3 separate regions of the Homo sapiens genome follow, and regions 1 and 3 are each linked to region 2. The links come from fine-mapping of genetic effects on gene expression. A gene starts in region 2. Each other region holds a variant in brackets. All regions are shown on one strand. Distances are between the middles of the regions.

Region 1 (2,767 bases), 190 kb after region 2:
AACATGGAGACAGTGCGGTCTTCTCAGAGGAAGTAATGTCTGATGGGTGGCAGGATGGATTAGTATTAATCAGATGGGTTAAGGATGGGCTAGTGTGCATCAGAAAGGGGTAGAGAAGGGCATTCCAAACAAAGGAACTAGCCTGTGCAAAGGCCCCCACCTCATATGAAAGTGAGGTTTATTAAGGCAGTGCAAAGAAAGCACTGAACATAGTTCCTGGCACATGGTAATAGTTGATAATGTTTACAATGATGACAATAATAACGATGATTGTGGTGGTGACCAACTTTGTGATAGAGGAACATATCCTTCTTAAATTATTGCCATTATGGTTTTTGATTTCTTTTGTTTTATTTTGTTTTTTAGTGACAAGGTCTTGCACTGTTGCCCAGGCTCGAGTACAATGAAGTAATCAAAGCTCACTGCAGCCTCGACCTCCTGGGCTCAAGCGATTCTCCCACGTAGGCCTCCCAGGCAGCTAGTATTATAGGCCTCAGCCACAATGCCTGGCTAATAATTTTTTTAAAAAAATTTGGTAGAGATGGAGTCTTGCTTTGTTGTCCAGGTTGGTCTCAAACACCTAGGCTCAAGTGATGCTTCTGCTTTGGCCTCTCAAAGTTCTGAGATTACAGGCATGAGACACCATGCCCATAATCACCACAGCTGATTAACTGAGATTTATTTTTCCCAGCTCCCATCTCACCCTTTAATGAGGGCATTTTTTAAGGTACATTTCCCTAAGGATAGGCAAGAAAGGGAAAAAGAAGGAGAACTTGAAGCCTAAATCATGGATATGTGACTAATCTTGCTCTTATTTATAGATTTGTTTAAATGCAGTGTTATAGGGCTAGTTGGTTTAATCTTTACAAATGGAAAAAAATATAGAGATAATGTGTTGTGTTCATTATGGTATAGGTGATCAGTTTCTCCAGAGAAACACCTAACTAGAACAATTAGATGAGACATTTACCTAATGATTCGAGTTTCTCAGTAGTAGCAGAACAAAAAAAAAAATTTTTTTTCCAAAGTAAACAACATCTTCCAGACCACACCTTTTTCAGACCACTTCTAAGAGATGAATGTTAATGGCAGTAGGGATTTTCGAACTGTCTTGCAGAACGTGTGGAAATCATGGTCCATGTAGTTTCCTTGTTCATCTTCGTATTTACCAGGCAATTCAAATACATAGATACTTCCTACAAAAACTTCTGAAATGCTATGGTAACGTATGCCATGAAATACAATTTGCATGGATGATTAAGTTCCTATTTACAGCCTTCACCTCTTTTTACAGCTGCTGTACAAATAACAAAGTTCAAAGAATGGAAAATCTAACAGTTATAAACACTGAGTTCCCACACCCAAAAGATTTTCATAAAAGCCAAATAGAAACATACAGAAAGGTGCGGTTGCTCACTCTCATTTTCTTTTAAGTTGAGTGATTATTTCCTATTAGACTTCACCTGGTTTGTTTATTTAATGATTCTTTCCAGTAGGCTGTTATTACCTGAAGGAGCATAAAATAGAAACTACAAGCATGAGTTAGAGAAAACTGCAATCTTCCTAC[G/A]AGAGCATGGGAAATAATTAATACTCTAGGAACATTTTTCCACCCAAATCCTGAAATTATGCTCAGAACTGTGGTTCATACGCGTAGGTGCACTGTTCCCCTTTAGGAGAGGAGCCATAGCTTTTTTGGGGGTCTTCAATAAAGTCCATAGCTTCAAAGAATTGTTAAAACACATTTTTCAACAGTGTTTTCCTTTTGCTATACTTTCACTCAGTAACATTTCCACACCTGGAAAGATACTTTAAAAAGCAAACACCTTTGTTTAAGTGCTCATAAATTAAGCCTGAGCAACATAATGTACAATAAGTATAAAAATAATATGGACGTTAAACAGTGTGGCAAAGTGGTCACCAGTCCAATCATCAGAAAATATCGAGAGGGATCCCAGATGAATTGGAATATATGACCCTATTTATTTATTTCAGTGGCTGTTTTAAAAGTTTGAAAACCTCAGGGTGTGAGTAGATTATTGTGTGATGTCCTTCGGACAAAATTCTTTTAAGTTGACCTGCAGGACAGGAATTTAAGTGCTGTAGGAAAATCACCACATTTGCTGATGGCATCTTTTTTGCAATTGTCATGCTCTGTGAATTTTTGGAGTCATAGTTTCATTTCCCCGCACTTGGTCCTTCTATGCCTTGCTCATTTTTTCCAATGATCCTCATCCTTCAATGGTTATAATCCTAAATATCCTCAAAGGTGGGATGCTACAGATGATAACTGAGTTCATGTTTACCTATAACCAATAATTTATACTGGAAGTTAAACTAGCAGTTCTGGAACAACATGAAATGCTGGGGCGTGGGATGAGCAGTTTGGATGAAGTGATACTATTCACTCTTCAGCAGGGACATAATAAATACCTGAATTCTTTTCCTATAAAAGTAAAAGATTCCACTGAGCTTGCATTACTTATGTGATGTCCTTTTTTAAGATACCTTTTCCGGCACATTATCATTAATGATGTATGTTTATAAAATAATTTTTAAAAGGTTGGTTTTTAAAAGAAGAAGGAAGTGGAGCAGGAGAAATAGAAGCAGCAGCAGTAGTTGAGGTGAATCAGAGACAGAGGAGGAAGAGGAGAAGTAGATTGGGAAGAGAAGTGAATGTCCAGAGAATTGCTGGTGCAATATAGCCTTTAAAGAATAAGCCAGGCCAATAAACACTAGTGTCTTGGAACTAAATTTCTGTCTTTCTGTC
Region 2 (2,767 bases):
TCCTTAAAAGGGCATCCCCTTTACTAGCCACTCAGTCACCATCACCATCACGTCACTTATTGTAACTTCTTTGCATACAGCTTAAAACCAACAGATTTTTTTTCTTTTCACCCTCAGATAAGTTCCCTAGAATCTACACTACTTGTCTTCATCATTGTTCAATCAACAGCCTAGAGTAGTGTTTGTTGAATGAAGAAATGAACAAACGAATGCACCCTTTCTTCCGTGACCCTCTCCTCTGAACAGGGCAAAACTTAACTCATAACGAGGATACACTCAAAAATGTCTTTCTTATTGCCAGGTGTTTCCACTCTTGAGGAACAGATGCCCTTTAGGAGACAGGGCAATTTGACTGGACTGGCCCTTCCGATTTTAGGTGAAAATAATCACCATAACAGCTTTTCATCTCTGGCTAGGCTTCCCAGTGACCAAAGCTTTACTTTCCGATTTCCATACCACGTAAAGACATCAGGGTGAGCACTAGGGCCCTGAGAACCCTGGAAGCTACTTCTTGGCTGGGATAGGGCTGGTTGCCCGGTGCGCTGTGAGTGGTCCTCCCCGGAGATGCTGGGAGAAGGGGCGGAGCCATCAGAAAGGATGAGCCTTCCTTGGGCCTTCGGATCTGGTGGGGCTGCCACTTTGGGAAGGGCCCCGGGCTTCGGAAGAAAGCAAAACTAGCCTTGTGGCGAAGAAGGAGCCCAGCTGGCCCCAGGCTGTTAAGACTAAGGGGTCGAGGGAAAAGAGGCAGAGCCTGAAACCAAATCTGCGGAGCAAGCCAAGGCCTGGGGACTTGCCAGAGGGAAGGGTTAAGCCGTTTCCAAGGCAACGGACCAGGAAGCGCGCAAGACGTCCGCCGCAGGTTCGTAGGTCGCCCTCGAATTTAAAGCTCCCAAGGCTGAGTGGGTCCCGGCCAATGGAGAGGCCCCCTTTAAGTCATGTGACCAGCGGGGCTGCCCCGCGGGCTGCTCCGCGGGCTGCACTGGAGCACGTGGGAAGGCTTTTTTTCCTGTTCCTTCTTTCCCTTTTTAAACGCCCACCCACTTTTGCGCGGGCTCGGCCGCGGAATTTTTCTCGCGAGAGGCGCGCTGCCCTCTCGCGAGAGAGAGTGGGAGGCGTGGAGAGTAGGCGGTGTTGCGGGCCGGAGCTGCGGCGGCGGCGGCGGCGGCGGAAGCCGAGGGGTGGGCAGGGCGGGGGCGGGCCGCGGGGCTGGGAGGGGGAGGGCTGGGGGTCAGCGCGGGAGGGGGCCAGCTTGCTTGCCCGGCTCGCTCACGGGTCGTTGAGGCCGGTGACATGTCTGTGAGCTGCGGAGGCTGCGGCCCCCAGGTGAGCCGGGCGCCGACGTGCTCGCCGCGGAGGCTGCGTTTAGATGGGGTGGCGGCGGGTGTGCGGCCGGCATGGATGGAGCGGCCCGGCTCCGGCGCTCCAGCCCCTCCGCCTGCCGCTGGTCCCCCTTCTGGCTTCGGGGCCGCCCGAGAGCTGCGCCTTCGCATGGCGGAGGGAGGAGGGCGGGAGGAGCGCGGCCGAAGGAGGAAACTCACCGCACCGGGCCCAGAGTAGAGGGAGGTGCTGGGTCTCGAGACGCGTCTTCCTGGGGTCCCAAGTGTGGCGGTGGAGCTGCCGCCCCTTTTAATGACAGGCTGTTTCCATCCCCGGGGTGGTCTTCAGAGACGGCCCCCCGGGTGCGTGGTGCGCGTGCTTAGTGTGTGTTCGTGGTGTGCGCACAGGAACATTTGCAGCGGTTGGGAGGACGTTGCACTTTGTTCCCGAACAGCATCCTTCACTGTCAGACCCCCGGAGCCTTGGAAGCAGGCGCTGCTCAGATCTTGTAAACGGAAGGCGTCAAGGGGCTCCTCAGAGTATTGATATTTGGATTTGCTGTCAAATACTCTCCTAGGCTGTTAATGGCTTAAGGCTGGCCATAAAGTACCCCGAATGGATTGAGTATACTGCTGTTAATCCAGGCATCTAAGCTGCTTTATAAAAAATATGTAGATGTAACCGAAGTATTAAAAAGTGACAATGACAGTAAAAGCTAACATTTTTTCTCTTCCCCATATTACCAGCTTTCATTTTTTTTCTCTGCTTTGTCTGTCTTCTAAAACCATATAAAGTTGGATGTGGTTTAGCTTTAGATGTTAAGGAGTTTCATGGTGAGAAAGACTGCTGAGATACATACCTAATAGCTTTAGTACAAACTGGAGTTAATTCCTGTTCTCTTTTCAGCTTTTCAATCGCTTGCAAAATGCTCGTTTTGCTTAGCTGCTTCCCACTGTTTTAGAAATGTCATGTCGATTGTTATTTTGTTATGTCTGAAAATACTCAAAATATGGAGTACTAAGAAAAAATGGGGTATCAGTAATGCACAGATATATTTTTTTTAATGTCATCATTTTAGGATGGCAGCCCAGTGCCTGGCATGATTGGTGTCAGTTAAAATAGTGCAATTGAATGATTTTTTTTTTTTTTGAAAAACACATTTACTTTTTCAAACGGTACCCTGATTATTCATTTTTTCTTGTCGTTGTTCCTCCTGACAAAACTGACCCAGGGGTGGACAGTGAATGTCACTATTGTAGCTGTAACAGTAATTTATGAAAGGTCAAAGAATGTAAGGAAATCAGGGAAGAAGTGGGTTCCCAAGCTGAGCTAGAGACTAATGTATGTACCCACATAACTGCAGTATCGACAATATTGATAAGGGCCTAGCAGTGGACTCCTAGGCCAGTGATATTTTGCAGTTGTTGAGGATATGGGAAGTTGCCTAAGA
Region 3 (2,718 bases), 32 kb after region 2:
AAGTCTCTTCAGCCTTCCTCACAAAATCACAGGTTTTACCACAGCACTGGCAGTTTAAATGGATATGGTTGTGGAGACAATGTTGTTCAAGCTGTAGAACAGTATGCCAAAAAAGTAGTGGATGACACTCTAGAGCTAACTCTAGGATCTACAGTGTTCCGAGTGTCTGAGACCACAAAATCAGCAGACAGGGTCACTTATGCAGAAAAGTTGTCACCTCTTACAGGTCAAGCTTGCAGATACTGTGACCTTAAAGAACTCCACAATTGCACTGGAAATTCATCTCAGCACTTTTTCAGACAGGGTTCTCTCGCCAGTAGTAAGCCAGCTTCTAATCCAAAATTTAGCAGCCGCTATCAGAAATCTAGGATTTTTCATCTCAGTGTCCCTCAGATTCATGTTAATCTTGATAAGAAGGCAGTGCTTGCTGAGAAGATAGTTGCTGAAGCCATTGAAAAAGCTGAGCGAGAGCTGAGCAGTACCAGCCTGGCAGCCGACAGTGGGATCGGACAGGAGGGTGCCAGCTTTGCTGAAAGCCTTGCCACAGAAACCATGACAGCAGCTGTCACAAATGTTGGGCATGCTGTTAGCAGGTAAGTTTCACGTTTCTTTTGGTTGTTAATGATAAATTAAAAAGATAAATGTGATCCTATATGTCTTAGGTCCTGTTCATAAAGGAATGATTATTTTTAACCCTACATAAACAAAAGTTTTCCCTGTTGCATTTATGTATTGTTTCATATCCTACACATGACTTTAATATATTTTGGTCTCCTGATCCCTTTTGAGGGAAGGTGTTATCCATTTACAGAGCTGGAAAATGAGGGTTGGAGAAAATAATCACCTTATCCAAGTTCATAGAGCTATGAAATAGGTAAAGTTGAATTAAATAAATAGCTAGAGAATTTTATATAGTAGTCCCCCCTTATTCTCAATTTTGCTTTCCTCAATCTGAAAATGTTAAATGGAAAATTCCAGAAATAAG[C/T]GATTCGTAAGTTTTAAGTTGCATGTTCTGAGTAGCATGATGAAGTCTCACACCATCTCACTCAGGATGTGAATTACCCCTTTATCCAGTTTATCCATACTACATGTGCTGTTCACCTGTTAGTCACTTAGAAGGTATCTCAGTTATCAGGTCCACAAACCTGGTATGTACAGGGCTTGATGCTATCTGCAGTTTCAGACATCCACTGGGTGTCTTAGATCATATCCCCCATGGATAAGGGGGGACTATTCTATAGTAAATGTAGAATATTACTATATTAATTTACTATTCTGAGATTAAATTTTTGTACACCTTTCTTCATTCACAAGGGTAAGTTTTCTTATAAAGACCATGGTTAAACTACTCTGAAGAAGAAAGTGAAAATTCTTTACATACTTACACCATTTCTCTTGATTGGTTCACAATCTAAGAGGACAGTTCTTTCTGGTAGTCCTACAGTGTCCTGTTTTTCAGTAGCTATCTCTTGTGCTCAGTGATTCTTTTTTTTTTTTTGAGATGGAGTCTCGCACTGTTGCCCAGGCTGGAGTGCAGTGGCACAATCTCAGCTCACTGCAACCTTTGCCTCCCGGGTTCAAGCGATTCCTGTGCCTCAGCCTCCCTAGTAGCTGGGATTACAGGCACCCACCACCACGCCCAGCTAATTTTTGTATTTTTAGTAGAGACAGGGTTTCACCAAGTTGGCCAGGCTGGTCTTGAACTCCTGACCTTAGGTGATCTGCCCACCTCAGCTTCCCAAAGTGCTGGGATCACAGGCGTGAGCCACCGCAACCAGCCATGCTCAGTGATTCTTTAATAACAACTTAGTTACAGTTTTTCAGTTTAAACCTTCTTTGTCCCTGAGAAGATATCAGGACCAACTTGTGTTATTAGTTGATAGGATGATATTTGTAAGTCCTGCTTGAAAGAGAAAATGCTTTAAGTTGAGGTGGAATTTAATTGAGTCACATGATATTCCAGATTTTTGAGTAGCTTCTGTTAAAGCCATGACATGGTCTGCCTCTTTTCTTATCCATCTTAAAATAGGGAGATATAGCTTGGCCAGGATTCTTGAATCCAATTGCTCCATAGCGTCTACTTGAGATGAGAGATGATGTAGGTTTCTGGTGAACTAGGAGAGGTCTCTATTTGCCCTAATCAGGCAGCCTTCTTTCTCCTAGACCAGGGGTTGGCAAACTACAGTCTGTGGGCCAATGTGGCCTACTGGTTGTTTTTGTATGGACTGCAAGCTAAGAACAGATTTCATGTTTTTTTTTAATGGTTGAAAAAAATCAAATGATATTTTGTGATGTGGAAATTATATGAAATTCAAATTTCAGTATTTATAAATAAAGTTTTATTGGGACACCACCATGCTCATTCAATTACACATTTCTGTGGCTGCCTTTGTGCTATAATGGCAGAGTTGAGTAGTTGGGACAGAGGCTGTATGACCAGCAGTGCCTATGTACTTCCTGTTTGGCCTGTATTAGTTCATTTTCACACTGCTATAAAGATACCACCTGAGACTGAGTAATTTATAAACAAAGGAGGTTTAATTGACTCACAGTTCTGCATGGCTGGGAAAGCCTCAGGAGACTTACAGTCATGGCACAAGGCAAAGGGGAAGCAAGTGTTTTCTTCACAAGGCAGCAGGAGAGAGAGAGAAGGGGGAGCTGCCAGACACTTTTAAAACCATCAGCTCTCATGAGAACTCCCTCACTGTCATGAGAACA

What was found. PIP is the estimated chance that this variant, and not a neighbour inherited with it, causes the effect.
Region 1: its variant is fine-mapped to the expression of AKAP11 in whole blood (INTERVAL, PIP 0.96).
Region 3: its variant is fine-mapped to the expression of AKAP11 in T cells (TOPMed, PIP above 0.99).

Annotation. Positions count from the first base shown.
Region 1 is chr13:42,457,110-42,459,876 of GRCh38, forward strand. The region is part of intron 3 of LINC02341 (long intergenic non-protein coding RNA 2341); the gene reads left to right. Among named protein-coding and RNA genes, the nearest start is that of LINC02341, 34 kb to the left of the region's middle. The variant G/A (reference allele first, on the strand shown) is at 1,568.
Region 2 is chr13:42,270,906-42,273,672 of GRCh38, forward strand. AKAP11 (A-kinase anchoring protein 11) reads left to right here and starts at 1,247. Exons shown (of 13, transcript NM_016248.4): 1 at 1,247-1,323. RefSeq lists an enhancer at 437-616 and a silencer at 1,157-1,506.
Region 3 is chr13:42,303,271-42,305,988 of GRCh38, forward strand. It overlaps AKAP11 (A-kinase anchoring protein 11), which reads left to right. Exons shown (of 13, transcript NM_016248.4): 8 at 1-593. Among named protein-coding and RNA genes, the nearest start is that of AKAP11, 32 kb to the left of the region's middle. The variant C/T (reference allele first, on the strand shown) is at 986.